2 linked regions of the Homo sapiens genome follow. The protein of the gene in region 1 purifies or fractionates together with the protein of each later gene. This does not show direct contact. Each region holds a gene or a part of one and is shown on either strand. Other genes may lie near its edges. The genes, in order: DIPK2A and HADHB.

Region 1 (15,519 bases):
TAATTGGGCTTCTTATTAATTTGTATTAGTGTTTTATATAGTCTGAATAGATACCAGTCCTTTGTCAAATATATGTATTGGAAATACTTTCTTTCACTCTGTGAGTTGTCTAATCATTCTTTTAATGAATAAAGGTTAATACAGGCCAGTTGCTCATTTTAAAAATCTTTACGGTTAGAGTATTTTGTCTTTGCCTACATATAGTAAAGGATTGAGCTTGTTCAAAGCAAGCTATGGCCCTTACCCCTGGCAGGTAATCTGTAAACCCTTGGAATGTCCTGCTTCATGAGAGTAACTTTGTTTACCTGGATGCCTTAGGCCATGCCAGTTGTTAGTTCATTCTTGCACTGCTATAAAGAAATAACTGAGACTCAGTAATTTATAAAGATGAGAGATTTAATTGGCTTACGGTTCTGCAGGCTCTACAAGAAGCATGATGCTGACATCTGCTCAGCTTCTGGTGAAGCCTCAGGGAGATTTCAATCATGGTAGAAGGAGAAGAGGGAACAGAACTATCACAGGGGAACACAGGAGCAAGCAAGCGAGAGTGGGGGTGGGGAGTGCCACACACTTTTAAATGACCAGATCTTGCGAGAACTATCGCGAAGACAGCACCTAGCCATGAGGGATCTGCCCCCTTGACTAAACACCTCCCATCAGGCTCACCTCCAGCACTGAGGATTACAATTCAACATGAGATTTGGGTAGGGACAAATACTCAAACTGCATCACCAGTTTATGCTAACACTGTTATTTATGGTTGGGACCTTGGGTCATGTGGTATCACATTGACCTCTGGAGAGGCTGGCAACTCCAAGGTCAGCAATGTGAGAAGTGAGCCATAATTACGCCATTGATACCCTCCCCACTCCCACCTCCAGTCCTCTAAAAACAATGGACACCAAGGCTTGGTTGAGCTTCCCTGGTTCCATTGCCACAAGGTTCCATTACATCTTTGCTATAAGTAAGCACTGTCCACACAACTCCACTGGGAGAAGACAACTGGAAGCTCTGTCTGGTCTCTCCTGGACCTTGCCCTATGTGCTTCCTTCTATTTAATTTTAATCTATAAGCTTTTGATATAGCAAACTATGAGTATAATAACTCTGCTGAGTTCTGTTTGTCTAGTGAATTACTAAACCTGAGGGGGGTTTTGGGGAACTGCTGCCTATCAAAGGTCATGCAAATGTCCTCTTGTTTTAAGGCTTTGTTTTTATGCACATTTGGTTACGCCACCACTCTAGAATCACTCTTTGTGCACAGTGTGGTATGTGAATTACTAGTCAAGATACATTTTTTTCCTATGTGACATTCACTTCACCTTGCATCATTCATTGAAAAGACCACCTTTTCTCACTGCATTGATGTCACTTTTGCCATAAGTCAGCTGATCTGTATGTTTTTATATTATTTTCTATTCTGTTCCATTAGTTCATCTCACTGTTTTGAACAAATATGTCTCAATTACTAATTCTTTATGATGGTACTTCGAATCCATTGAATCCTCCAGCTTTGCTCTCCTTCAAAATTGGCTTGGCTATTTGTGGCCTTTTGTATATCTACGTGAACTTTAAGCTTGTCTTTTTTTTTTTTTTTTTTTTTTTTTTAGACCAAGTCATGCTTTGTCACCCAGGCTGGAGTGCATGGCGCAATTCTGGCTCACTGCAATCTCTGCCTCCCAGGGTCAAGCAATCGTTCCACATCAGCCTCCTGAGTAGCTGGGACTACAGGCAGGTGCCACTACCCCTTGCTATTTTATTTTTTTTTCTAGATACTGCGTCTCACTATGTTGCCCAAGCTGGTCTTGAACTCCTGAGCTCAAGTGATCTGCCCACCTCGGCCTCCCAAAGTGCTGGGATTACAGGTGTGAGCCATTGTGCCCAGCCAGCTTGTCAATATATGTATTTTAATTTGCTGGAATTTTGATGAGGGTTATATTGAATTATAAATTAACATTTTTACATCTGTTATCTTTACAGTATTAAATCCAGTAATCCTTGAACACATTATATACTTTTATTTATTTAGATATTTAATTTCGCTCAATATTGACTTGTAGTTTTCAGTGTAGAGACGTACATCCTTCCTTCAATTTATGCCTAGGTATTTGAAAGGTTTAAAAATGATGCTATTATAATTTATATAACATTTGTATGGAAAACCCAAAAGAAACTACTGCAGTAGTTAATGGTGATGACTATTAGCAATTTTCCTAATTGCAAAGACAATATTAAAAAAGCAATTTTATTTCTATATGCCAACAATAGAAAAATTATAAAAAACATAGGCTAATGTTTTATTTGAAAAATATTTTTCTTTTAATACTGACTTAGAAAAATCTGTGGAATCTGAAAGTAATTTTTTCTTTGAGGTAGGGTCTTGCTCTGTCACCTAGAGTACGGTGGTAGGAACATGGCTCACTTGCAGTCTCGACCTCCTGAGCTCAAGTGATCCTCCCATCTCAACCTCCCAAGTTGCTGGGACTACTGGTGCGCGCCATCATGCCTGGCTAGTGTGTGTGTGTGAGTGTGTGTGTGTGTGTATTTATTGTTGAGACAGGGTTTCATCACATTGCCCAGGCTGGTCTTAAACTCCTGGGCTCAAGTGATCTGCCTGCTTTGGCCTCCCAAAGAGCTGGGATTATAGGCATCAGGCACCATGACTGGAGGAAAGTAATTTTTAAAATAATTATTTTCTTAGAATTTTCCCTGAAATGTCCTTTGCAATCTATTTCCAGTGTTATGTGGAAAAACAATGTAAAAATGCAATTCATTGGTAGTCATTTTGGTAGGATGATACATTCCAAAAAAATGGATAGACATACACGTTAACTATCGAATGATGTAATGATTTTTACAGAGTTTAACATTCCTTTTAGAACTCCAATAACTGTATTTATTTAACCTGCATACTGATGACTGCAATTAGGGGTCACTTTATCTTAGAATAATTAAATATATCATGATATCCTAGTTTAATCCATTAAATTGTTACTTTCAGTTTGCCAACAAGTTCTTATGGTCTGGTTATCTTATGATTAAATCAGCACAAAATATATTTCACTTATTTATAATTTTTCAAGTTTTATTTTCTAAGTAGCAGGCAAATTCTTCAAGGAAACCTAATTATAACAAAACAGTATGTCATATTTCTATTTCATTTGATGTAATTTAAATTTTAATTCCTGATTTGTCAAAAAATAATTAGAACTTTACCATTTCCCAAATATAAAAGAAAAATGTCCTGGATATCAATCTACAGAAAGGCATGAAGCTGCAAAGGACAGAGGAGAAGGTGATGATGTGTCAAATCAGATAGACCAGTGTATCAATTATAGTTCAAAGATGGAGACTCTCTTGGGTGAACCCATAATTCTACTGGCCATACTCCTTGATTAGACTACACTGGATAATAAGACATCTCTATAGTTAGTTCCCCAAAATTAGATATCTTAATTATTTGCCTATAGAGTTTTATAAGTCCTTTTGTAAGAAGAAAACAAAATGGACATTTCTGGACTATATCATTTTGAACATTAAATACACATTATATTTGATACCCAAGTGTAACACTTACCTGGCCTCTCTCTCCCAGCTGTGGCTGACCTTTAAAACTGGCACGGCCATTAGATTGAAGACTATAGCAGGTCTTTTACCTATACAAGTGGTTTCTACAAAAGGAGCCTGGTAAAGAAAACTGAGTCAGAAAGAAGGTGGCACTTTTGTTATCCGGATGAATGCTTTTGCTCTGAACAGGCAGTTGCTGTTCTCCAAGATCTCTGGCATGCTTGCCCAGAGAGAAGAGCTGTGTAGCCTCCATCATCCATAGAGGTGGCAGGAACACCATTTGCACAAGTCAGAATGAGGAAAGGTAGGAGACTTAGGATGTGAGGCTTGAGAGAAAAACAGTTGACAAAGCAGCAGCAAAATTCTCCTAGTGTACACAGCCTATTCTCCTGAGGGGAGTCATATAAGTGCAAATATAACATCTATAGCTACAGGAATTTTTTGTTTGTGCTCTTTTAATATTTATTTTATCTATTTGTCACAAACATGTAATGAATGTTGGTATGCATGTATCTGCCTCCTCCACTGGACTCTGAGAAACCACACACCCAGAATCTTGTACATGGTTGGAACTAAATAAACCACACTGTTAGAATGCATGCCAATCTTTAAAATAGACTATTGTAATGTTAATTTATACCTACATACATGACTTAATTTTCAAAAGATCTTAACAAGTGGGTACATAAGTCCCCTCTCAGTGATGTGTTAATTTTTTAAATATTTGTAAATATTGTGTTCTGTGCTGAAACAAACTGGAAAAAAACAAGTTTTAAAAATGTACTGAGCAAAAGGAAAATGTGCCTCTCTATTAACCTAGTCAATGTGGAAAACTATAACACTGCATAATATTTTGAATTAATATAAATCATGAATTATAATGTTACAGTTGCATTTGGGCTAATTTGTATTATTCTGACAAGGTCAGAAAATTATGTGATTCAATTATTTCAAGCAAAATCATGGTTTTAGTATGTATGTTTGACAATTCTATTTTTACAACCAATGAAGCCAACTGTTTGATACAGAATCTGTCCTAGAAAATACCTATGTAGAGAGTTATGGATTTAAAATACAATAAGATGTTTTAAAAATTCGGTTAAAATGCTAAACAGATTAAAAAAAAAACCCTTTAACAAAACTGGTCCTTAAGGTACCTCTCCTAACACACATAAATCAGGTAATTGAAACATAAATGGACACTGAAGAATATGGACACGTGAACTGTACTTGCATCTTCCTCATCCTTTTCCTCTCAGTCTCCCTCATCTCAGTACATGGTGCTAGGATCTGAATGGTTGTGTCAGTTGCACCCCCACCCCCTTGTGCCATAATTCATATGTTGAGCCCTAATCCTCAATGTGATGGTATCTGGAGGTGGGTCCTTTGGGAGGTGACTTGTATTCTTATAAAAGAGACCCCAGAGTGATTCCCTTGTCCCTTCTGCCATGCGAAGACACAGCAGAAACATTTATGAATGAGGAAAACACCCAACACAAAATTTGCAAGCACTTTGATCATGGACTTGCCCCCAAAACTGTGAGAAAGAAATTTCTGTTGTTTATAAGCCACTAGTCTAAGATATTTTTGTTCCAGCAGCCCCAAAGGGCTTAGACAAATGGTAATTCTTACAATAGTTTAAGACAAAAACCATGCCATAATACCTGATGCTTGCCTTTCTCTCACATTAAAATCTTGAGTAAACTTTGTTAGCTCTACGTTCACAATATATCCAGAATGTGCTAGCTTTTTTTTTTTTTTTTTTTTAACCAGCTAATACCCATCATTTCTAGTTTGGATTATTACAATAATACTGAAAGTGTTTATTCCTTCAATTGTTAATCCACCTACTACTGGAACAAACCACTTAAACCAGACACTGTTCTGGGTTCTTTAGTATACAGGAAATTATCTTTTTGGACTTTACAAAACGAATACCTCTTATCCACCCTGAATCTTACTATAGTGCACTGTCTCAGGACATGACTGCCAGAGCACTGAATATAGTCAATATGATAAAATAATTCTAATACCCAAGTAAAAAAATCATTTTCCAGGATGGGCTTCCAATGCTTTGCTTCTAAATCCAACTAACTTGGAAAACCTAATTGGTATGTCATTCAGAATATTCTGATGATAGATCACTATCGGTAAATGATTCTAGTCAAAAGGAATAAAAAGAAATGAATGAAATTGCTATATAAACATTCTTTTTATTTTTAAACATAAATGAAGATGTTTTGGCCCTTACATCTCTAAAAGCGAAGAAGAGAGAAAACTGATGTTAGACTTCGTCTGATTCTAGCAATAAATAATATTTGTTCATGGAAACCTAATTTTAAAAAAATGCCCAAGCTAATTAAGAAATACATTTCAATAAAATGTTACTTTTTATATTTATTCAAATTGGGATATTTGTTATTTTGATCAGCTGAACACTAATTATAGTTGTAATCATACAAAAAATTCCTATGTTAGCATTTAGGAGATTATGATCACAGGATATACACAAAATTTAAATACAGTTGTCTGTTGGTATATACCTGGGATTGGTTCCAGGACCCCCGGTATACCAAAATCCTCTCATACACAAGTTCTGCAGCTAGTCCTGCAGAACCTGCTTACAGTAAAAGTCAGCTGTCCTTGGGTTTCATATACAGCATATACTATATTTTTGATCCTCATTTGGTTGAAAAAAATCTATGTATGAGTACAATTCAAACCTGTGTTGTTCAAGGGACAACGGTATACACATATTTTTTGCTGCAGGAAAGGATAACCAATAAGGCTTATGCCTAAAACCGTACTATATAGAATTCTTGTTAGTCAGGGTTTCTCAACAGCACACTATTGAGATGTTGAGTGGGTTAATTTCTTGTTGTTGGGGGTTGTCTTTTGCAATGTAGGATATTTTGCAGCATCCTTGGCATGTTCCCACTAGACAACAGTAGTACCCCACTCCCTAGTTTATGAAATCAAAAATGTCTCCAGACATTGCCAACTGGCCCCTGGGAGGCAACAGTCCCTTGCTGAGAACCACTGCAGTAGAGAATAGAATAGTAATACAATGTAAAACTTTGACTATCAAAATGGATGTTAGTATCAAACTACTATGGTATTTAATTCCATCTGATAATATTTAAAACAGTGATAGTTACTGTAAAATGACATTTTACAATGCACTGGAAATTACATTATTTGCCATTACTTAAAATAATGGTCAAGAACTTTAAATGATCCACTGGTTGAAAGCATCCTGTAGTTTATAGGAAAGGTGAGTAATGCACATTAACCTTCACTTAGAGTTTTTTTTTTTGGAAACGGAGTTTTTGCTCTGTCGCCAAGGCTGGAGTGCAGTGGCGCCATCTCGGCTCACTGCAGCCTCCGCTTCCTGGGTTCAAGCAATTCTCCAGCCTCAGCCTCCCGAGTAGGTGGGACTACAGGCGTGCGCCGCCATGCCTGGCTAATTTTTGTATTTTTAGTAGAGACAGGGTTTCACCGTGTTGGCCAGGATGGTCTTGATCTCCTGACCTCGTGATCCGCCTGCCTCGGCCTCCCAAAGTGCTGGGATTACGGGGGTGAGCCACCGTGCCTGGCCCCAATTAAGAGATATTTTGCAAACCTTAATATGGCACTTTGGAACACTATATGTTTATCTTGTATAGTTCTAAGACTTTTTTCCTTTTGATGAATGTATTAAGTTCTTGAAAACTATCTCTCCTGATAAACATCTAGAAAATTTAACTGAAAAGATCAGAGCTTTTAAACAAATGTAAACTACTTAGATGCAGAGCAAATGTTTTTCAAAATTCAAATTGTGTAGACTAGTAACCGTGTTTTATTTCCATGTTTCAAATGATGCCTATACAATTCCAAGCATCTGGAGGCTGAGAATAGTTTAAGAACTCCAAAGACCTATTCGATACAAAGAAGCAGTACAGGTACCTCCTTAATCCTGTTACTAGTTACCTAAATAGTCTCACTATGCCCCGGTTCTCTCAGCTTAATCAGTTTAATGGCAACTTATGTAGTACTTTTATTGTTTTAAACCAATTCTAAATAGATTGTCTACTATTAATCGAACAAATTTATGAGGCATATAGAAAAGATGTCAGAAAGAAGAAATTTGTAGTTAAGTAATAACTTGCTTTGTTTACAATTCAGCAGCAGCAGCAGCCTCACAGCTGAACTACAGCACAGGTCTCCAGAACCATCACACCAAACTCCTTTTCCTAAGAAAATCTCACTTGAGCTTTTAACTCTATATTATATGGAGTTTGGGGATATTTGAAAGCAAGTTAAATAAAATTCCCACCAAAGGCGGCATAAGGCACTAGGCAGAAGTAGCCAAACTTAAGTACAGTAAGTCAATTTCTAGAAAGCTTTGAATATTATTTCAATTTGTCTGTCCGTATTCAATGCAAATCGTTACAAAATCACGTCTATTTTGAATTTATTAAATTTCTCAAAGTTTTTTTTTCAAAATCTGAGTTCTTATAAGAATTTGTAACAAATACCTGTTACAATTAAACAATACTGAAAGTATTGTTACTTTTGATAACCTGGTATAGATGTTTCTTATTAACCCGCTGTAGAGTTGATCTACACATGCCAGTTACCATGGTCTTCTAAAAGCACTGTTCAAGCCCTAAAATTAACTCAGTTAAGACTCAGTTGTTTAATAACGTATCAGGAACCACCTGTCCCTCAGACTAAAAATCACTTCTCATTTTAACTACTCTAGCACTAAAAGTGAATAGCATAATAATGTATCTACTAGCGCTACTGCTAAACAGTCCGGGTCCCCTGAAACTTATCCCTAAACACAGTGCTTTCGTGCGGCATCTGCGCCTTACTTTTGCAGTCTGGGGTGACTGAGTCAACGTGACCGTGCGGAGCACCAAGCAGCCCCGGGTCCCCATGGCTACCGCCAGGGCAACGCTTCGCGGCCCGCTCCTCAGGGACCCTCAGGGGCGGCACCGGGAAATCAGCTTTGCGGAGAGGAACCGCAGGGCTCCGGGGACGGGCTAGGGCAGCCGGCGGGCAGCAGAGGCAAGCCTGGCAAACTCTTCCCGGCTTCTTCGCGGCGCTTGGGGCAGACGTCCTGGCGACACCAGGCCGCGTCGGTTCCCCTTCATCCTATTTTCCCTTTAACACGGTGGCTTGAGAACTTTATTTTGTGCTCACTCAAGAAAATTTTAAATGATTTTACAGATACAACCCCAAAGATGAAGCTCCAACAAACCCGCCACTACTCGAGCCTTTCTCACCGTCTTCCTCACAGGCCCCACCCCCTACCGCGAGGAGCACGAGCTGAGGGGAACACAAGCCCCCGTCGGGCACTCCCCGGCCTCGCCCCACCCCCCAGGCGCGCACCCAACCCATATAAGGCGAGGGGAGGCAATCGCGCCAGCTCTGCCTCCGCCTCGCGCGCCGTCCAGAGGGAAGGATTTGCAATAGACTTCCTCAGTTCATTTCTTCTTATTCCCTCCTCCCTTAAAGGGCCGTTTCCACAATAGTGAAAGGAACGCACCAGTAAACCACAATAATCATAAAAGATGACTGTAATTAAGACTCTTTCTGAAACCAGAAACCGCGAGTTCATGCCCCCACCTCAAGAGCCCGAGCTTCCCCCTCTCTGAACCGCCCCCACACCCGCTCCCGCGAGCTCCCGCTTACGCTTTCCGGGCGGCGCGCGACGCGCTCGCTCCGCCCCTCTGGCCCCGCCCCCGGCTCCCCTTCTTGGTCTCAGGAGAGCCAGCGCGCACAAGCAAGGGTGTGCGGCTCTGAGACGTGCGTTGCTGCTTGTGGGTGTGAGACATCCTAGCTCCTCTTCCCCTTCCGTGAGTCCCTCCTTTCCTCGCAGACCCCACTTGTCGTGGCTGGCTGCCGCCGCAGCTCTTGTGCGAAGCCAGCAGTGCGCGTGCGCGCGGGCACGGGCGCGCGACCGTCGGGTCCCCGCGCTCCCTCCCCCTCCCGCTCCTCTATAACTTGGCTGGCGTGGAGGAGGCGCCGCCGGAGTCGGAGGGCGGGGAGCTAGGAGGAGGGAGCTCGAGAGTTGTGGAGACTAGTGACTGGGAGAAGTCGCAGCCCGCTCAGGCCCGCGCCTTCCCGCTCCCCGTCTTCCTCTCTCACACACCTACTCCGCCCTCCGCCCCAGCCCGCGCGCTAGCTCCTTCTCTCGCCCGGGGTTCCTGCCGGTAGCTCTCCGGGTCTTGGCGCGGCGGGGGCGCCCCGGGGGTGCCCTCGCCCTCCCGTTGCGGGCGGGCGGGCGGTATGTGGCGCCTGGTGCCCCCGAAGCTGGGCCGCCTGTCCCGCTCGCTGAAGCTGGCGGCGCTGGGCAGCCTGTTGGTGCTGATGGTGCTGCACTCGCCGTCGCTGCTCGCCTCTTGGCAGCGCAACGAACTGACCGACCGGCGCTTCCTGCAGCTCAATAAGTGCCCGGCGTGCTTCGGCACGAGCTGGTGCCGCCGCTTCCTCAACGGGCAGGTGGTATTCGAGGCGTGGGGCCGCTTGCGCCTGCTGGACTTCCTCAACGTGAAGAACGTGTACTTCGCGCAGTACGGCGAGCCCCGCGAGGGCGGCCGCCGCCGAGTGGTGCTCAAGCGCCTCGGCTCGCAGCGCGAGCTGGCGCAGCTCGACCAGAGCATCTGCAAGCGGGCCACCGGCCGGCCCCGCTGCGACCTGCTGCAGGCCATGCCCCGGACCGAGTTCGCGCGCCTCAACGGCGACGTGCGTCTGCTCACGCCCGAGGCGGTGGAGGGCTGGTCGGACCTGGTGCACTGCCCCTCGCAGCGCCTTCTCGACCGCCTGGTGCGCCGCTACGCGGAGACCAAGGACTCGGGCAGCTTCCTGCTTCGCAACCTCAAGGACTCGGAGCGCATGCAGCTGCTGCTGACCCTGGCCTTCAACCCCGAGCCGCTGGTGCTACAGGTAGGCGCGGAGCCAGGGCAGGGGGCGTCCTGGGAGGGGCCGCGCGTGGGAATCAGAGTCGGGAGAAGTGGCTCAGCCAGCGCTTGCCGCCAGTTCGGACTCGGCCGGGCTGGGCCAGGCTGCAGGCGTGGGAAGGGGCGTCTCCGGGGGAGCCCCGGGGCTGTGCAGGGAGGCCGAGGGCGACCCCGCTGATGGAGAGTCTGCTCTTGTTACCTAGATTCGGGCGCATTTCGGATTTGACTGTGGATCTTTCAACGCCAGAGGGAGTGCGTCTCTTAACACTCCCCAAAATGTCTCTACTGCGAGTTTCCTTCCGCTCTCTACCCTGCCTTTCTGCTTTTATCTGCCGGGGCTTGCAGGTCCGCGGCGCAGACTGTTCACGAGCCCTTGGACCTTTCCTAGTTCTTCTGAAGTGTTCTACACCGCGTTCGCTCTTCCTTTTCTGGCGCTGGTGGCTGGCCTAACTTCGGTCTCAGAGTCTTTGTTTTCGCTCATTTACCTGGCAGTCATTTGGACACCTAATTCGAGGACAAGTTGGGGAGGATGAAGTCGGAGAACGGGACAGTGGTCGGGGTGGGTTTAATCTGTGAGCCGAGCTTTGGGTGGGATTAGAATCAGAAACAGGAAAAGTAAGGCAGCGTTGGACTTGGGGCTGGGAGGGCTTAAGGCCAGACAGACGTTTTCATCCTGATCCTGTGACCTGCCCTATTCATCTGGTAATCTAGTTGAAGGGAGATGAAATATTAGGCCAGGGCGAGTATCAGGGAAGGAGATTCTTGCCTTTCGCCAGTTGCGTTGTTTGCTCTCGTCTGACTGTTTTGAAAAGTAATGTGCCTTTTAGGGGAATAGGATGGAATCTTTACTGGTGACATCAAAAAGAGAACAAAAAACAAAAACACTGTTTACTTTCGGAGTATTTGCTTGTTTCTGCACATTCCCACCCAGCTTCAGTGCGGTGTCCTTGAACAGTGATTACAACTGTGGGGTTGTGGTTTCTCCTTCTGTCTGCAGGAAAAGTTACCGTGCTCCTTTCCATGACAAGAGAAAAAAATGACTTAAAAGTTCACAAGTAATTTTGGTATACTTCACATTCTTTCTGGGTTGCTGTCACTGAGGGCTGGAGGTACAGGGTTTTTTTTTTTTTTATTTTTCTAAAATGCATGAATAGGAAAGTGCAGATTTCTTTATATTATTTTCTTTTCTCAAGCTCTACACTGCCCATTTTAGCTTTAAAAGAAACCAGCTTCGTTTGATTAGTTCAGCCAAATAATGTAACACAAATATTTGGCTTCAGATGAAACTTTAGTGTGGGTCTTAGTAAATTTTAGGACATCAGAGGCTATGTGTATTGGGTTAATTTTAAAGTCAGAGTGTGTTTTAAATACTGCTGTATCACCTAACTGAATGGATGCATAAAACTGGTTAAACTTTCCTTGAAGAAATTTTCTTTATTCAGTAGTTCCCAAACTAGTCAGTCTCTAAAGGTTTAGCCTGTATTTATGATGTACATACACTTGAACTGAAGTTTCTCATTAAGCTATCTTTAAAAGAGAACCTTGTTTGTATTAGCAAGGTTGGTTCTTGGAGATCGTGTTAGCATTTTGCTGAAGTAGATACCCGGACAAATTCTCTGAGACCCAGAAATTTAGCAAGGAGCTGTCTTAGTAATATACATTTACTGTACTTAAAATGCTGGCGTCCCTACCGAAAGATTTTTTTTTTTTAGGTAATTTTGAATAGTGATGTATTAGTAACAACTAACAGTAGAATTGATATTTTAAGAACATTATGTGGCCAGTTCTTTTTAAGTGTAGTCATAGCATTGAATTTGAGAAACTTTGGCATCTGATTTACACTAAGGTAAATTTGTGCTTTGTGCAGGAAGGTTTTATATTTTTTTAAGTTTGAACTTCTCATGGCATTCTCAGTTTACTTTGTAGTTGAGATAGTCAAGTGTGCGTGTATCTTGTTTTCTGTTTAACTTTTCCCTCAAACTTACTCTTTATCTGTTCTCATCTTTAGTGATGAAACAGCCTTTTTTGAAAAAGCACAATTATTTTCTTATATATGACACATAATGACACAGCTACTTTGAGTGGGTAAACACATGGGCCATAGGATAAGAATTTGTTTTTAGTATGTGATGAAACATGTCTCCACGTTTTAGAGTGAGGTTTGTAAATTACATTTTTAATTTACACAACCCAGTTCCCAGGAATAGTACTAATACTAATATATGTATTATAATTATAGCTGAGTACATACTGTGTAATATAATTTTGGGGTCTTTAGTACCAGCCAGTCATATAGGCATGTAATTTTTTTAAAACCTGATTAACAAGCAAGTAGAGGAAGAAGATATTTTTAAGTAAGAGTTTTCAGAGAGCCGCTGCTTTCTTTGTAGAATCACTTGATCTTTGGAAAAAGCTAGTGAATTTACAAGTCTGAACAATATACTTGAGGTTTGATGATTGTATAAAACCACCAAAATGAAAGGTATCTCAACATTCTGTGATCAAGTACAAAAGTTGCTGTACAGTAAGTCAAACCATGATGTTCATTACCTTTGTTAGCTAGGAAACTACATTTTTAGTATTTATACAGGTTTTTATAAAACTGTTTATAGCTGTTTACAGTAATACTGGGATATTAATTGATACAGAAAAACTCAGATTTGGCTGTCTATTGCTTCATGTATTAAAAAATATATTTTTAAGAGTACAAGTGTTTTAACAGCTTGAAGAGGAACTCACTTTTTTCCTCCAGGAGAGGGAGCTACTTGTCGAATTTTTGGACAGCTGGTGACAAACTAGATTTTTCTTATATTGTCCAAAAATTAACAACTTCAGGGAAAAAAAAGTCTTTGAACTGACTTCATCCAAGTATTCTTAACAAAACTTCCAGTATCGTAAGCATGCTTCAAAATAAGCATGTAAAAATTTCTTTTGATAAGGTGTTTAAGAACTGAAAAATACTTACGAATTTAATCCATTAAACTCACCTCTTCTGATTTGAAAAAACAGTAAAAAATTGAAGTTGCTATTATTCCTTGAAAGGAGAGGTGAAAGACATTAAGTGTCTAAGATGTTTACACACATACCTTATCTATGTAAGGCTGTAAAGATTTGTGATATAAATTTCCCCATATGAAATGGCATGAGAGTATGGCTTTCTTCTTATTGTTGGATAGTTTCACTAGTTTACAACAGTTTACCCATAGAATTATTATCTTCTAAAAAATGTTTATAAACATCAAGCAACAAGATAATGCTAGTAGTACCTTTATCTTCTACTCTGATACCCTTTCCTCGTCGTCACATTTTTACTTCACTAAGATGTGTGTATTTTAGTGCCAGGTATACTGTAATCCTATGAAAAAAAAAATGGAGGAGAGGAACTATGTTGACTTTTATATTGTGTAAATAGGAATCTTGAAGTATTCAAAAATTGAGTTGTTGAAGTAATTGGCAAGATCACAAGTTATTGTTGATAAATTTTCCATCGTATTTGTATTTAACCTATTGAATTTACAGAAAGGGAGAGTGTGTGTGTGTGTGTGTGTGTGTGAGAGAGAGAGAGAGAGAGAGAGAGAGAGATGCTGTCTGGATTTGTTGAAGTTCAGACAGAATCTCTGACTTTATAACCTGGAAGTAGTGAAGATGGTCTTGTTTGTAGGAAATGGAGAAAGCTCTTTGTTGTTTAGGGGGACGAGCTGGGAATGTTACTATTTGTGGAACTTCATTTGCCTTAAATTTTCTGAATCATGGTTTTAATAGGATTTACTTTATTTTTATAGTATATGACTATCATTAAGCTATGGTTTTTAAGCTTGCTTTTCTATTCTTATAAATGATATAATACATGCAAAGCACTTCACGTAGTATCTGGTAAATTGTAAGCATTCAATAAATGTTAGATATTGAATAAAGTAAAGGTAACTTTAACTGCCTGGTGCATTTGATCAGCTGTTTTGAAGCTCATTTGGGGTATGGATCACCTTAAAAATAATGGTGATTTTGAATATCAACCATACTTTAGTTATACTGATTTTTTTCCATTATTACTTTGATATAATTTTTTGTAGAAAACTTTCAGTGAATGTTGTTTTTGCCTTTAAAAGTAATTTATATAGGGAACAACATATTTTTTAAGTTCACTGGTGAAAATGTAGTTTTTGAAGTAAACAAAAGATTATTTAGCTAACGGTACTTTAGAAAAGTTGATAGATTTTTACTATTGGACTCACTTCCTTCTTTATAAAATGAAGCTATTGGATTAGATCCTTTTCAGCTCCAACATTCTGGGGCTTTCAAACTCTTGAGAAATTTGGTTTTTATTGTTGTTGTTGTTGTTGTTGTTTTCTTTTGAACTTTAACGAGTGGGTTTAATTAAGCTCTTCTGAAAGGGGATTGGGAGTGGGATGCTCTCTTTCAAGCCTTTCTTCCTACCCCCAAATTTTTACACACATGAAATAAAACAAAAACCAAAACCTTCCTTTAAGGGGAAATATGTGGAGTTAAGGGTAGCCAAGGATCTTGTGAGGCAATAGTGTGCAAAACGATGTTCCAGACTTTGTTTCAGGAGTTTCTTTTCAAACAACAGTTTAAGGAACCACCTACTTCTCCTTTACTGGCTGTTTCTTTAGTAACTGTCTTCCTAGATTTCGGCTTCAGAACACATTAGAGATGGTTCTTAGTAGAGCAGTTTTTAATCTAATAAATTTTGTAAGTTTTTGAACTTTTTGTGGCTTTTCATCTGAGAGTCCATTGACACTTTTGATTGCTCTTCAAGATAATCAAACAAAAATAATAAAACAATTTTGGATACCTCAAGTCCAAAAAGGGGGTGGGGACTTTTATTTTAGAAAGACCCTAGAAACAGACAATCGCCCTTAAGAAAGCATCACTTCAGAATCAGTAGAGCAAAGTCATTTGACATCCTGGACTAGTTTCTGGACATATCCATATCTTTTGACCATTTTGAATTTTGTCCTTTGTATACTTTTGTCTAGTCTTTGAAC
Region 2 (15,157 bases), on another chromosome or scaffold:
ATAAAAACTAGCCAGGTGTGGTGTCGTGTGCCTGTAATCCCAACTGCTTGGGAGGCTGAGGCAGGAGAATTGCTTGAACCTGGGAAGTGGAGGTTGCAGTTAGCCGAGATCGTGCCACAGCACTCCAGCCTTGGCGACAGAGCAAGGCATCATCTCAAAAAAAAAAAATTAAGTCCCCTTTTTTTTCCAAAACCAGTTCTCACTTTGTTTCGGGTAGCTAGGTATTCTTAGTCTCTAAGATTCCTTTATAATCCTGTTTTCCTCTTTCCTTTCTTTCTATATCTGATTGGTTGCCAACATACCTTGTTTTCTTTTATAAACTTCCTCTTTACTCATGTTGATACTGCCTTTATCCTGGCCTTTTGTGCCACATGCTTGGGTTTGCCACAGTCTCTTTGCTTACCTCCTTGTTGCCTTTATCTCCTTCACCAGCAGCACTTCTCCATGAATGCTGCCAGCGTCATCTTTATGCCCTATTTTATCATGACTATTAACTCTCACTAATATTTCTTTAAAGTTGGTTGTAGATGTTTACTATAAATACTTCTCTGTGACATTAACAGGTGTGGTAAGGTCGTTGTTGACATTGTATTCCCAATAATTTAGGATTTTTTTCTATCTTTGATAAGGAATAATGATAGAGTAGGTAAATTCCAACATTAACAAAAACAAGAAAATAATGAACTAGATTTTGATATACTAACATGGAATGTTCTTCGAGCTATATTGTTAAGCCAATAAAATATACATAATATACAAGTATATGCATGTAAGTGCACTAAAAGAAACGATTTGAAAGTATATACACCAAATAAACAGACTTTACCTCTTAGAAGAAAATAGTGTGGTAGGCGAAGGCATAAAGAGGGAACTTTAGTTTTTACTCTCCATAGTTCAGTATTATTTACTTTTTAAAAAAAACCATAGGCACACATTTATATTTTATTCTTTAATTTAAGAAACCTAAAGGAAGTTTGCTTTTTTGAGATTAAAAAGTATTTAGGCATGTAGATTTTTGCAGAATAGCAAGTCACCAACCAAGTGCCCCTTATTTCCACGTAGAAAAGGTAAGAACATCAAGCTATGTGAAGAGTGAACAATATCAATCATTGCAACTTCTAATATTAAGGGTAGATTTGCGTGTAAATTTGGTTACTTCTAATGAAATAGGTTGTCAAACACTTAGTAAAAATGAACTATTTTGTTAATGGCATAAATTCCCTCATCATTGGATATAAGCTTTGTTTATCTTAAATATTATTTAGAAACTTACAAATGCTAGTCAATTTCTTAGCCTTTTTTTAAAAAAAAATTAAAGTGGTTTAGTAAATGGCAAATGCAAGTTGGCATTAATGATGTAATAATTCTTAGAATGACTATCTTAAAAAATGTAAAAGTAGGCCAGGCACGGTAGCTCACATCTGTAATCCCAGCAGTTTGGGAGGCTGAGGCGGGCAGATCACCTGAGGTCAGGAGTTTGAGACCAGTCTGGCCAACATGGTGAAACCCCATCTCTACAAAAATACAAAAATTAGCTGGGCATGATGGCAGGTGCCTGTAATCCCAGCTACTCAGGAGGTTGAGGCAGGAGAATTGCTTGAATCCGGGAGGCAGAGGTTGCAGTGAGCCGAGATCACGCCATTGCACTCCAGCCTGGGTGACAGAGCGAGACTCCATCTTAAAAAAAAAAAAAAAAAGTAAAAGTCATCAGACTTTATATATTTTAATTAGTAGTTTTTGTTTTTAAACTTTATCTTAAAGCTGTCCAGACCAAAACGAAGAAGACGTTAGCCAAACCCAATATAAGGAATGTTGTGGTGGTGGATGGTGTTCGCACTCCATTTTTGCTGTCTGGCACTTCGTAAGTATGACATGATCATATTATTTTTTTCCTTCTTTTAAGACACTTTCAAAAGTAGTCTTTGTAAATGTAACCCAGTAGGTAATAATATTGTTAGTGGACTAATATTTGGATAGCAGTCCCATGAAATTAATATAGAATAAGTCAAGACAGTGGTGAAATAATATGGCAACATTTGTTTTTTATCCTTCTCATGAATAAGTCTAGCGTAGTTTTACTTGAAACAGCTCTATTTTGAAAACCTAGAGGTCCAGATAGCTTGCTTCCAACAGAGCTGTCCTTTCCTTTTCTGGAGACAAGTACATTGTCCCTGTTTCTCCTCAGAAGTTTGAGTGCTGAAGATGTGGGCCATGGGCATTCTGAAGGGCCTATATAATCCACTGGTTTGGCCTCCTGGAAATTATTAAAATTGGAGTTGATAGGGCTGGTCCAAACCCCCAGCATAGCACAACCCCAAGTGTGTGGGACCAGAATGGTCCTAGACCAGCTCCAGAATTCCCTAGATCCAAATTGCTCTTCTCCTTGGCCTTTTGTGCTTCTTTTCTGTCCCCGAGTGAAGGTTAGTCTATCCAAAAGCTGATAATGGACTTTGATAACAAGGTTTAAACTGTTCATTCTATTCTGTTTAGATTGTTTTAATGTTTATATTTTGAATAGGTAGTTGCCAGCTTTAAAAAAATGCTGCGGAATGTTAGGCATCTGTTAAAAAGAATGAGACCTATCTTTATATACTAATATGGAAGACCTAAGATCTTGAAGATATGTTAAGTATAAAAAGCAAGGTTCAGGCTGGGTGCAGTGGCTCACACCTGTAATCCCAGCACTTTGGGAGGCCAAGGCAAGAGGATTACTTGAGCCCAGGAGTTCAAGACCAGCCTGGGTAACATAGCAAGACCTTGTCTCTGCAGAAAATAAAAAATATTAGCTGGGCATGGTGGTACATACCTGTAGTCCCAGCTACTCAGGAGGCTGAGGTGGGAGGATCACTTGAGCCTGGGAGGTCAAGGCTGCAGTGAGCCGTGATCATGCTACTACCTATACTCCAGCCTGGGTGACAGAGCAAGACTCCATCTCAAAAAAAAAAAAAAAAAAAAGCAAGGTGCACAGTATTGTGTATAGTGTGCAATGACTTATGAAAGATACACATGTGTGTGTGTATGTGTGTATACACACACAACAAAGGTTCATTTTTAAACAGATGGTTTGGGACCTACAAATATATTTTCTTACAGAAGTAATGCTATATGTTGGCCAGGCACGTGGCTCATGCCTGTAATCCCAGCACTTTGGAAGGCTAAGGTGGGTGGATCACTTGAGGCCAGGAGTTCATGGCAAAACCCTGTCTCTACTAAATACAAAAATTAGCTGGGTGTAGTGGTATGCACCTCTAGTCCCAGCTACTCGAGACACTAAGGCATGAGAATCTCATGAACCCAAGAGGTGGAGGTTGCAGTGAGCCAAGATCATGCCACTGTACTCCAGCCTGGGCAACACAGCGAGACCCTGTTTCAAAAAAAAAAAAAAAGAAGAAGAAGTAATGCTATAAGTAAATGGTAGTGACGTTTCTTTATTCATCCTATTTTATCAATATAGTAATCCACTTAACGATGTTTCTATAATCTCTTTCCTGTACTGACACAACAGTAAAAGTAAGAATCAGAAGGCTTTAGCAGCAGGAAGAAGATGATGTCCTCCTTTTACTCAGCAGCAATAAAATAGAAAAAGTTCCATCAAGACATGAAAGTTCTTGGCTAGGAAGACTTTTTTTGTAAGGATCATTATATATTATGTAGGTGTTTGATACTGTTTTACTAGCTGTTAAAAAATACAAACAGGCCAGGTTCAGTGGCTCACACCTGTAATCCCAACACTTTGGGAGGCCAAGGCAGGTGGATCACCTGAGGTTAGGAGTTTGAGACCAGCCCGGCCAATATGGCAAAACCCCATCTCTACTAAAAATACAAAAATTAGCTAGGTGTGGTGGTGCATGCCTGTAGTCCCAGCTACTTGGGAGGCTGAGGCAGGAGAATCACTTGAACCTGGGAGGTGGAGGTTGTGATGAGCTGAGATTGTGCCACTGTACTCCAGCCTGGGTGACAGAGCAAAACTCCATCTCAAAACAACAACAACAACAACAACAACAAAACACCCAAACATACTCAACTGTTTCATTTACTTTTATTAAACATTTGATGATTAGTATTTGCATGAAGTTTAATTTGAGGTATTTACCAAATTGGCATAGGGTTGTTCCTTTCTTTGTTGTGTATTGTGTTTTAGTTTAATTCAGGATTCTGGTTCATGAGCAATCTAGTGGTACAGAGAAGAGAAAAACATTGAGTAATGTAAGAAATGATAGTGAATAGGGAAGAAAGAATCAAAAGTATTTTAAGGCAATATTCATGTAAAGAACAAAAGTCACTAAAAAATAACATTAGAGGCCAGGTGCAGTGGCTCACACCTATAATTCCAGCGCTTTGGGAGGCGGAGGCGGGAGGATCATTCAAGGCCAGGAGTTTGAGACTGGCTTGAGCAACATATGAGCAACATAACTAGACACCTATCCCCAACGCCTCCTCACCCCCTACCTCCCAGTCCTATCTCTACAAAAAAAAGAAAAAAAAAAAGGTGTTTTAATTAGCCAGGCATGGTGGTGCATGCCCCTAGTCCTAGCTACTTGGGAGGCTGGGGCGGGAGGATTGCTTAAGCCTAGGAGTTTGAGGCTGCAGTGGGCTATGAACGTATATGAGCTATGCTATTGCACTTCAACCTGGGTGACAGAGCCAGACCTTGTCTCTTAAAAAAAAATTAATAATAATAACATAGAGGGAAAATGTATAAGGACAACAATTTTTACATTATTGATGTTAGGATTGAAGTACCAAATGAGTCTTCTGTAATAGAAGATCATTTTCTAAGTGGAAAAAGTCTTTTTCTGTTTAATTTGCAGAAACGTTGCTTTCAACTTGAGTGTTATTTGGAAGGCCAGGTTCTTATGGGTAGGGGCATTTGGGAAGCACTCCCGGGAATAGACTCTAGCAGTGGAATTCAGAAGTCTGTCAATCATTCAGGTAGAGGAGTGTGAGAGTATGAGAATAAAGATTGTAAATGATAAGTTGGCTGGGCGCAGTGGCTCACGTCTGTAATCCCAGCACTTTGGGAGGCTGAGGCGGGCGGATCACCTGAGGTCAGGTGTTTGAGACCAGCCTGGCCAACATGGCGAGACCCTATCTCTACTAAAAATACAAAAATTAGCCAGGCATGGTGGCGTGCACCTGTAATCCCAGCTACTTGGGAGGCTGAGGTGGGAGACTATCTTGAGCCCAGGAAGCACGTTGCACCACTGCACTCCAGCCCTCCAGCCTTGGTGATGGAGTGAGACACTCTCTCTCAAAAAAAAAAAAAAAAAAAAAAAGGATTGTAAATGATAAATAATTTATGGCTTAGGCATTTTCAAATTGACACATGACTTTTCCCCAAATAATTCTGTCCTAAATTTGAGGAAACTGGATTTACCTATGAAAAATTTGGAAAACTACTCATGGTTCTCCTGTGATTCTGAGTGAAAATGACAGTAAAAATATTTTGGAGTTTTTAAGTTTTAATTTTCAGGGACTTGAAGAATGAATCTTCTTATTTAATCCAATGATTAAATCTCTGACTTAAAAATAAAGAGAATTTATTTTTGATCTTTAAACAAACAAACAAATAAATAGAGTTCATACCCAGATCTTGGTTTCTAAATAGCAGTCTTCAATACAAAGAACCAGAGCTCCTTTGAAGAATGATTAGGGCTGAGCCAGAGAAAAGACAGGATGAGCAAGGAGAACTTGTAGTGCCGGAAAGCAAAGAAGTACTTAAAAAAAAGAGGGGTTCAGGGGGTCATGTCAAAAAGACACAGGTCTGACCTGCAGGAGCTACCGGTCACCAAAACTGCAATGATTTGAGCAATAAAATAAATTGCAATAGTATTGGAACATAACCCAAAGAATAAAACAAATGCCTACGAGTCTAATCTGATATAAATAAGTGAATAAATAAATACACATTGGGAGGCCAAGGTGAATGGATCGCTTGAGGTCAGGAGTTCGAGACCAGCCTGGCCAACATGGTGAAACCCCTTCTCTACTAAAAATACAAAAATTAGCTGGATTTGGTGGCAGGCGCCTATAATCCCAGCTACTCAGGAGGCTGAGGCAGGAGAATCGATTGAACCCGGGAGGCAGAGGTTGCGGTGAGCCGACATCGTGCCACTGCACTCCAGCCTGGGCAACAGAGTGAGACTCTGTCTCAAAAAAAAAAAAAAAAAAGAGTAAATAAATGAGAAAGAATGAACAAGTCTTCCTTACAGAAGAATTTTGATTAATAAATATAGGAGGACTGTGTACAGTGGTTCACACATGTAATCCCAGCACTTTGGGAGGCTGAGGTAGGAGGATTGCTTGAGGCCAGGAGTTCGAGACCGGCATGGACAAAGTGAGACTCCATCTCTGCAAAAACTAAAAATGAAAAATTAGCTGGGTGTGGTAGCAGACACCGGTAGTCCTACCTACAAGGGAGGCCGAAGTGGGAAGATTGCTTGAGCCCATGAGTTTGAGGCTGCAGTGACCTGTGATTGCACCACTGCATTCCAGTCTGAGTGACAGAGTGAGACCCTATCTCAAAAAATAAAAATAAATAAAGAATGAGAAAAATAACCATTAGAATACCACATAATACTTGCTGCGAGATCTACAAATGAATGCTAAAATTAGGTGAAATGCTAAGAAGAAACAGAATATTTGCATAGTCTCAGAGAATCTCCCCCAAAATATTTATCAATTACTATGATGATTTCGACATACGTCCGCAAAGTCTGTGTTATTCCTGCCACTGGAAGGTGGAACTTAATTCTCCCCTCAGAATGTGGGCTAGACTTAGTGACTCACTTCTAACAAATTGAGATAAGAAAGGAAAAAATAGTAACTTTATAGTGGAGTAAACTGGCAGACATCACTTGACCCAAATCATCACTTTAACATCACTGGTAGTAAGTCATGTTGATATCATGTGCCCCCTGATACGAAGCTAAGAGAAATACAGTTTACCTCTGTGATATTCTTCCCCTAAATCCATAACCCCAGTCTTCAAAAGTGTCAAGGTCATGAAAGACAAGGAAGACTGAGAAACTGTCACAAATTGGAGGAGACTGAGGAGGCATGACAACTAAATGCAACATGGTATCTTGGATTGAATCTTGGAACAGAAAAAGGACATTAGTGGAACAACTGGTGAGACTCAGATAGGTAGTAGCTTAGTGAATAGTATTGTGCCAATGTTCATTTCTTAGTTTTAATAAGTATATCATGGTTATGTAAGATGTCAGTATTAGAAAAAGCAGGGGAAGGCTGGGCGCGGTGACTCACGTCTGTAATCCCAGCACTTTGGGAGGCCAAGGCGGGCAAATCACCTGAGGTCAGGAGTTCAGGACCAGCGTGGCCAACATGGTGAAATCCCATCTCTACTAAAAATACAAAAAAATCAGCTGGGCGTGGTGGTGGGTGCCCGTAATCCCAGCTATTCGGGAAGCTGAGGCAGGAGAATTGCTTGAACCCTGGAGGTGGAGGTTGCAGTGAGCTGAGATTGCGCCATTGCACTTCAGCCTGGGCAACAAGAGCGAACCTCCGTCTTAAAAAAAAAAAAAAAACAGCAGGGGGAAAGAGGAACTCTGCTCTCTTTTTCCAATTCTTATTTATGTATTTACACAGGGTCTTGCTCTGCTGCCCAGACTGGAGTGCAGTGGTGTGATCCTAGCAGCCTCAAATTCATGGCCTTAAGCAGTCTTCTCACCTCAGCCTCCCAAGTAGCTAGGACTACAGATCCATGCCACCACGCCTGGCTAATTTTTAATATTTTTTGTAAGAGACAAGGTCTTGCTTGCTCTGTTACCCAGGCTGGTCTTGAACTCCTGGCCTCAAGTAGTCATATCACCTCAGCCTCCCAAAATGTTGGGATTCTAGGTGTGAGCCACCATGCTTGGCCTCTTTCCAATTCTTTGGTAAATCTCAAGTTACTTAAAAGCAAAAAGTTTCTTCAAAAGTCCTAATACATCACCTGTAGCCCTGTAGGCATTACAAAATAAATAAATAATATACTTTTAAAATAAAATGTTTAAAGGAAAAGAGACCTCAAAGGTGGGGCTTCACTTTAAAGAAAATTTAGCATATGTTATACTGAACATTAAGGTGTTGGACAACATTTTTGTTCGATTCTTAGCAAGCTCAGGAGGAGTTAAGGCTTGCTAGACTTTTAAGGATGACAAATAGCGAAGTCACACTATTTCTTCATTTGAAATGATGGACTGCCTTGGATAGTAAAGTTAAGTGTGTTTGTAGCAGCATGTGTTTGATGATCTCTGGGTATTTCAAATAGAATGAAAATTTTTCATTGAAGCTCTAGGGTTTTGGTTTAAATTACTGGTTTTCGTTCCCCAGATATAAAGACCTGATGCCACATGATTTGGCTAGAGCAGCGCTTACGTAAGTAAATGCAGTTTCATTTCCGTTCTTATTTCATTAAAGGCACTTTCTCCAGTTTTTACACATAAAATAGCAATTTGTTCTTATTTTAGCCATCTGTACTATACAAATTTAAGCAGCTTATGAATATTGTCAATCTTTATTTTGCAGGCCTAACAGTGTCTTAGCCTGACAGTATACTTTAATGCTACCTTAGCTAGCCACAGGACTCGATTGATCAGCCTAAACACAATACATATATTTGATGATTGCCTTAGGAACTTGTATAAGGGTAGCTGAACAGATTATGTAGATATTTACCTAGAAAGAAGCCTAAAAGACACCTGAAGATTCATGTGCAAACCAAGTAAAAATGTAAAATTAGATGTAGTTAAATAAGATTAGGCTGGATGAATAATTTGGTTGAGAATCATTAAATGTGTTGCTGTTTCATAACATGTAAGGCATTATCTCTTCATTTTCCACTGACACTTTGCCTTTGTGTCTTCAACCAGCCACAGTTCTTTCTTAGTTTGGAGAAACCCTTCAGTTGACCTTTCTGTCCATTCTAACTCTATGTTTGTTTTTTTTTTCTTCCTGCAATACCTCAAGCATGAGTGAAAGAGCAGTTGTTTCTGTTTCCTTATTATTAGTTTCCTCTGTCTAATTGTATAATCATTATTTCCATTTTCCCTTTGTTTTACAGAAACCATACTTTAGAATCTTCTCTTAATAATGGTTTTATGATTGCTCAATGTACTGATCCTTTCTCAGTCCTCTGTCTCTGTACTTTATAGCACTTGACACTGTAAGCTATAATCACCTCTCTTCTGTTGACTTCTTAGTAATATGCCTTTATGATTTTTCTTTTTCTTCTGTATCCTGACTGATTCTTCTGTAGCTTTTTTTTTTTTTTTTTTGAGACGGAGTCTCGCTCTGTCACCCAGGCTGGAGTGCAGTGGCGTGATTTCGGCTCACTGCAAGCTCTGCCTGCCGGGTTCACGCCATTCTCCTGCCTCAGCCTCCCGAGTACCTGGGACTACAGGCGCCTGCCACCATGCCCGGCTAATTTTTTTTTTCTTTTTTTTTTTTGTATTTTTAGTAGAGACGGGGTTTCACTGTGTTAGCCAGGATGGTGTCGATCTCCTGACCTCGTGATCCGCCCTCCTCGGCCTCCCAAAGTGCTGGGCTTACAGGTGTGAGCCACTGCGCCCGGCCGATTCTTCTCTAGCTTAAAAAAAAAAAACTGGGCCAAGCACGGTGGCTCACTCCTGTAATCCCAGCACTTTGGGAGGCTGAGGTGGGCAGATCACCTGAGGTCGGGAGTTCAAGACCAGCCTGACCAACATGGAGAAACCCCATCTCTACTAAAAATACAAAATTAGCTGGGCGTAGTAGCACATGCCTGTAATGCCAGCTACTTGGAAGGCTGAGGCAGGAGAATCCCTTGAACCTGGGAGGCAGAGGTTGCAGTGAGCCGAGATCACGCCATTGCACTCCAGCCTGGGCAACAAGAGCAAAACTCCGTCTCAAAAAATAAAAATAAAAAACCACACACACACACAACTGGATCTCTCCCTCTTTCTCTTTTTGAAAGGTGTTTTGCAAGTTTCATTCCTTAGAGCTTTGCATTTCTCTGTATGCATATTTTCCTTTAAAAATCTCATCTACTAGCTAGGCATGGTGTCTTACACCTATAATCCCAGCACTTTAGGAAACCAAGGCAGGAGGATCAAGGTAGGAGGATCTTTTGAGCCCAGGAGTTTGAGACCAGCCTAAGCAACATAGTAAGACTCCATCTCTACAAAAAAAAATTTTAAAAATTAGCCAACCAAGAGAATTCAGCTCAGGAGTTGAAGGTTGCAGTGAGCTATGATTCCACTACTAGACTCCAGGCAGGGCAATCGAGCAAGACTTTGTCTCAAAAAAAAAATTTTTTTTAAATTTTTAATTTATTTTTTTCTGTATGGAGTCTCACTCTGTCCAAGGCTGGAGTGCAGTTGCTTGATCATAGCTCACTGCAACCTCGAAGCCTCCCAGGTAACTGGGACTATAGGCGTAAGCCAATGTTTCTAACCCTCTTTTTAGTTTTTTTAATTGATAAAAAACTACAGATTTTACAGATTTTTATTTATTTATTTCATTGTAGCCAAGTTTAGTCATTACTCATTTTGAAGCTCAGCTTATTCCACATTTTATCTGGCACTCCTTCAAGTTGGCTCCTGTGTGCCTTTTGTTTTTTAGTATAATGCTGGTTGTTGATATATAATTTGCATGCAATAAAGTGCACAGATTTTAAGTGTATAGTTTGATGAGTTTTGACAAATGTATATACCCCGTGTTCCTGTTTTTGATATGGTCCCATTTGTCTTTTTTTTTTTTTTTTGACACAGAGTTTCGCTCTTGTTGCGCAAATTGGAGTGCAGTGGCACGATCTCGGCTCACTGCAGCCTCCGCCTCCCAGGTTCAAGCAATTCTCCTGCCTCAGCCTTCCGAGTAGCTGGAATTACAGGCACATGCCACCAGTCTTGGCTAATTTTTTTTGTATTTTTAGTAGAGACGGGGTTTTGCTGTGTTAGCCAGGCTGGTCTCGAACTCCTGTCCTCAAGTGATCCGCCTGCCTCGGCCTCCCAAAGTGCTAGGATTACAGGCTTAAACCACTGTGCCCGGCTGATATGGTCCCATTTGTCTTTGAGTGCTTCCTTACTTTTGGCACAAAAAAGATGGAAATTCACTTTGTACTTTCTTCTGGACCTGGTATCAGTCATTTCTTAAAAAACCTTTTGTCCTTTTAATGGGGAATGGCATTTAGAAACCAAATCTGGGGCCGGGTATAGTGGCTTACACCTATAATCCCAGCACTTTGGGAGGCCAAGGCTGGTGGATCACTTGCAGTCAGGAGTCCGAGACCAGCCTGGCTAACATGGTGAACCCTGTTTCTACTAAAAATACAAAAATAAGCCAGGCATCATGGCAGGCGCTTGTAGCCCCAGCTACTCAGGAGGCTGAGGTGAGAGAACCACTTAAACCCAGGAGGTGGAGGTTGCAGTGAGCCGAGATTGTGCCAGTACACTCCATCCAGCCTGGGTGAAAGGGCAAGATTCTTATCTCAAAAAAAAAAAAAGGAAACCAAGTCTGGGTTCAGGGAGTGCTCATTCCTACTGGAGTGTTATTGTGTCTAGTTTCTATTCATGGGCACAACTAGAATATATGTATTATTTCAATCATTTGTTGATACTGATATTTCAAACTAAAATTTAACATACCCAGGACTTCTTTTTTTTTAATTTTTTTTAATAGTCTTAAGGGAGACTTTGCTTTATCTCTTTGATTGAATATTTGTCTCTCTTTTTCACTGCAAACTTTGGTTTCTACTAACATTAATTAACATTAATTTATAGGTTTCTTATCTATTTTATTCTATTCCAAATTATTTTTTATTCTCTAACTTCTCATTACCAATTCAGCATCAAATGTTGACTTTTAAAATCACTCTTTCATTCATTTCTTCTTTGAGAAGGTGCCAAATGCTTGTCAAATTAAAGAAAAGATACAGTCTCTGTCCTTTTAAATTCAAGGCTAACCTTTTTCAAGGAGCGCAGTGTTTTGTGTGATGATCTCTGGCACTGCCTTGATGTGTGAAATGTTTCTTTGCTTTGGATTTCTACTTCCAGGGGTTTGTTGCATCGGACCAGTGTCCCTAAGGAAGTAGTTGATTATATCATCTTTGGTACAGTTATTCAGGAAGTGAAAACAAGCAATGTGGCTAGAGAGGTGAGTAAAACAAACTTTATGTTGTTTAAAGAGTGATAGGAGAATCACTTTGAATTTCAATTAATAGAAGTTACTTTACAAAAGCCTTTAAAATCTATTGAGTTACATTTGACCTAAAATGTGATTTTACAGCTTGGGTAATGTGTTATTTAATATGTAAAAGAATTCTAATATAAATCAAATGACATACACTATATTAGTGTATATCCATACTTTACTGTAAATCAAATAAATTATTTGAGCTGGTTTAGGACATTGTCTCTTGTGTTAGGAAAATAGAGATCAGCAAAGTGTGGCTGATAGTATTTTTAGTAATGTTAGATATCATGGCTTCCAATTAATTTAAAATTTCAACATGTTGCAGAGAACTAATTTCATAACTTGACTTTTGTTAGCTGGAAGTAGCCTTGCTTACTCATTTGTTCCCATCAACTAGATGGCACGTAAGGCAGCTTGGCTTTTTAAAAACTATTTCACAGGAGTTTACTTTTGCCCTAGTTGGCATAGCTCCATGTAGTGTCGATTGGGCAACCAAGATAATGACAGGCCTTGGAACTTCTAGGATGTGTCCTACAGGCAAATCCAAACACGTCTTCTGGGCTGTGTTTTCATTTAAAATCGATTGGATGAAGTTGGCACCAAAAGCACATTTCATTGTACTCAGTATTTTCCCTAGTTCTGGTCTGTGCTTGCCATATTGTTGGGTTCAGTATCACTGTCAACTGAGAGACAAGGGCACATGAGCAGGACTGAAAGTATTTGTTCTGTTCCACCTCTGTACCTGGCAGAAATGTTAGAACTGCCAAAGGCCTGGCATGACTGAAGCCTACGAAACTAACTGTGTGCTGTTGAGGGGCAGGAAGGAATTAACAATAGGAAGAGATTTTATTTCCCTTCTGAAATTTTTTGTTTTTCCTTGAACCTTGACATTTCTGAATGTTTCAAATATGATAATTTCATGAGTACATCAAGCTGCTCATAATACATTTTCAACTTTTATATTCTGAAAATAACCTATTACTTTTATAAGAGCACTTAAGATGTAAATAGTAAATTTTTTTGCTGTTTTCTCCTCTTGCTCAGCTTTTTATCCCATCCTTTCTTCCTTCTCCTCCTCCTCAAAAAATAAAAAAATAAATAAATAAAAATAAATGTTTCCATTTTCTCTGTAATTCAGTTCTTTTTTTCCTAAAACTAAAGCCATAATGTTTTCCTCTGAAATTTTTCCTGGAAATTTTACATCCATTTGCAGATCTCAGCTATTGATTGACAGGAGGTAGATTCCCTCTGCCTGCCCTGTACTAATACCAGTTATGTTGTGCTCCAGGTAATTTTTGCAGCATCTGCAGGGAGAGATTGGGTTGAGGGGGATACATTATGAGAATGTCACTCTAAAGCTGTATTGCAACCTAAAAGCTAACATAATTTCCAGCCAAAGAATTTCTTAGGCCCTATTGCCTGTATTAATAATGTTAATATACAGTCCTTGCAACCTAAAAGCTAACATAATTTTCAGCCAAAGAGTTTCTTAGGCCCTATTGCCTGTATTAATAATGTTAATATACAGTCCTAAAAGGCTCCTGGTGTTCATGAACCTGACTTTGTTGAAAGGTTCAGCATATTTCCCTGTTCTCCAGCTTAAAGACATCTTCCTCCTTTTCCCTTAGTGCCCTGAGAGCTATTCAAATTTCAATAGAAGTGTGTGGACAAGGGTCACCAATAGCCACCTCTATTTAAAGCTCCTTCCGTCCTGAGAGTCATCTAGGGCCAAGGGCAACACAAATTAGAAAGGCCCTTGTGAGAATCGAGCCATTGCAACCTAAGTGCCCCTTTTACACTTGCCCTTTGCAGAGCTCTTCCCTCCTGCCCCCCTGAGATACTTGCGTCTCTCTTCCTTTCGGATTGGTTTACGTTGAGAGGCTGATGCACAGGTGCCTGGCAGAAGTTCTCAACAAAGCAGGTTGGGCATTTAGTATCAGGCCTACCTGGAAAGACCAGAATGAGGTCATGTTGCAGTTACATCACTAACACATTTCTGTTTCTATAGATTATGGTAAATAGCATAAAAGTAAGTAAGTATAAAGGTAAAAATCAGTTAAGAGACATTGAATTTCTAATTGAGACTTTGGAAACATTTATTTTACTAAATTATAGGAGAGTGTGTTCTGAGGATAATTAATAGTTTCAGGGAAAGAATACTAAAAATGAATTCCCTATAATGGGATCCAGTATTTCATAGTAAATATTGTGTGGGTGTGTATGTGGGAGGAAATCTGGAAGCTTTATTTCTAAAGTAAAACTTTAATATTATAAAAATAAGTATTTTATAATTGCACCTGTGCATTAATTATTTACATAAACAAAAATGGAATCAGACGTTGATTGGTTTTTGACAGCATAATTTCCCCCAATAAATAGTATAATAAAATTATAGATGTGCTCATTTCATGTTTGACTTTCACTGTGCCATTATAATAGAGGCCATTTTTAAAAGATTAATAATGACCTCAGTTTTTCTTAAAGCCGCTCAGATGACAAATTATTCTCTTTGTATCACGTATTATGCCATCATCCTGGCCACTTGTTAGTTGGTCTGACCCTTATTTGTTCACAGACTCACTTGTAACTCAGGCAATTCTCCAGTTTCTTTCATTGAGTTGAGCTTCTGTATAGTTGGCAAGTTTTCCAGTTCATCTTTGCATTGGGTCTGCAGTGTGCTATCTGAAGTATCAGACGGTCAGTAAGAGAAACCAGCTGGCAGTGAGCAGAAAGATAGGTGTAAAGCAGACAGGGTCTTGAGTGGGAACTCTGTTTATGAAGGGTCAGTTCTTTAGAAATCATTTTCATGTTTAATCACTTTTGCTTTGCTGCTAAGCTTTGTGACTGATCATGAGACCTGATAACACAGATAGTGAGGACTCCACCCCATAATATATTTCATCATCATTCCAGCAACTGTCTTTAATAGGTTCTTTTAAGTATATTTGAACATTAAACAAGTTAAAATCAAATTATATATTGATAT

What was found.
Region 2: the proteins of DIPK2A (region 1) and HADHB purify together in Homo sapiens (co-immunoprecipitation; 2 studies listed by IntAct). This does not show direct contact.

The regions. Positions count from the first base shown.
Region 1 is NC_000003.12:143,962,491-143,978,009, forward strand, and holds the start of DIPK2A (divergent protein kinase domain 2A isoform a precursor), read left to right. Parts: upstream 1-9,332; 5' UTR 9,333-9,842; coding exon 9,843-10,499; intron 10,500-10,590; exon of another isoform or gene 10,591-11,042; coding exon of another isoform or gene 11,043-11,072; intron 11,073-15,519. UniProt on the Homo sapiens protein: May play a role in cardiomyocyte proliferation through paracrine signaling and activation of the PPI3K-AKT-CDK7 signaling cascade.
Region 2 is NC_000002.12:26,261,619-26,276,775, forward strand, and holds part of HADHB (trifunctional enzyme subunit beta, mitochondrial isoform 1 precursor), read left to right. Parts: intron 1-1,761; coding exon 1,762-1,861; intron 1,862-8,334; coding exon 8,335-8,379; intron 8,380-12,032; coding exon 12,033-12,132; intron 12,133-15,157. UniProt on the Homo sapiens protein: Mitochondrial trifunctional enzyme catalyzes the last three of the four reactions of the mitochondrial beta-oxidation pathway.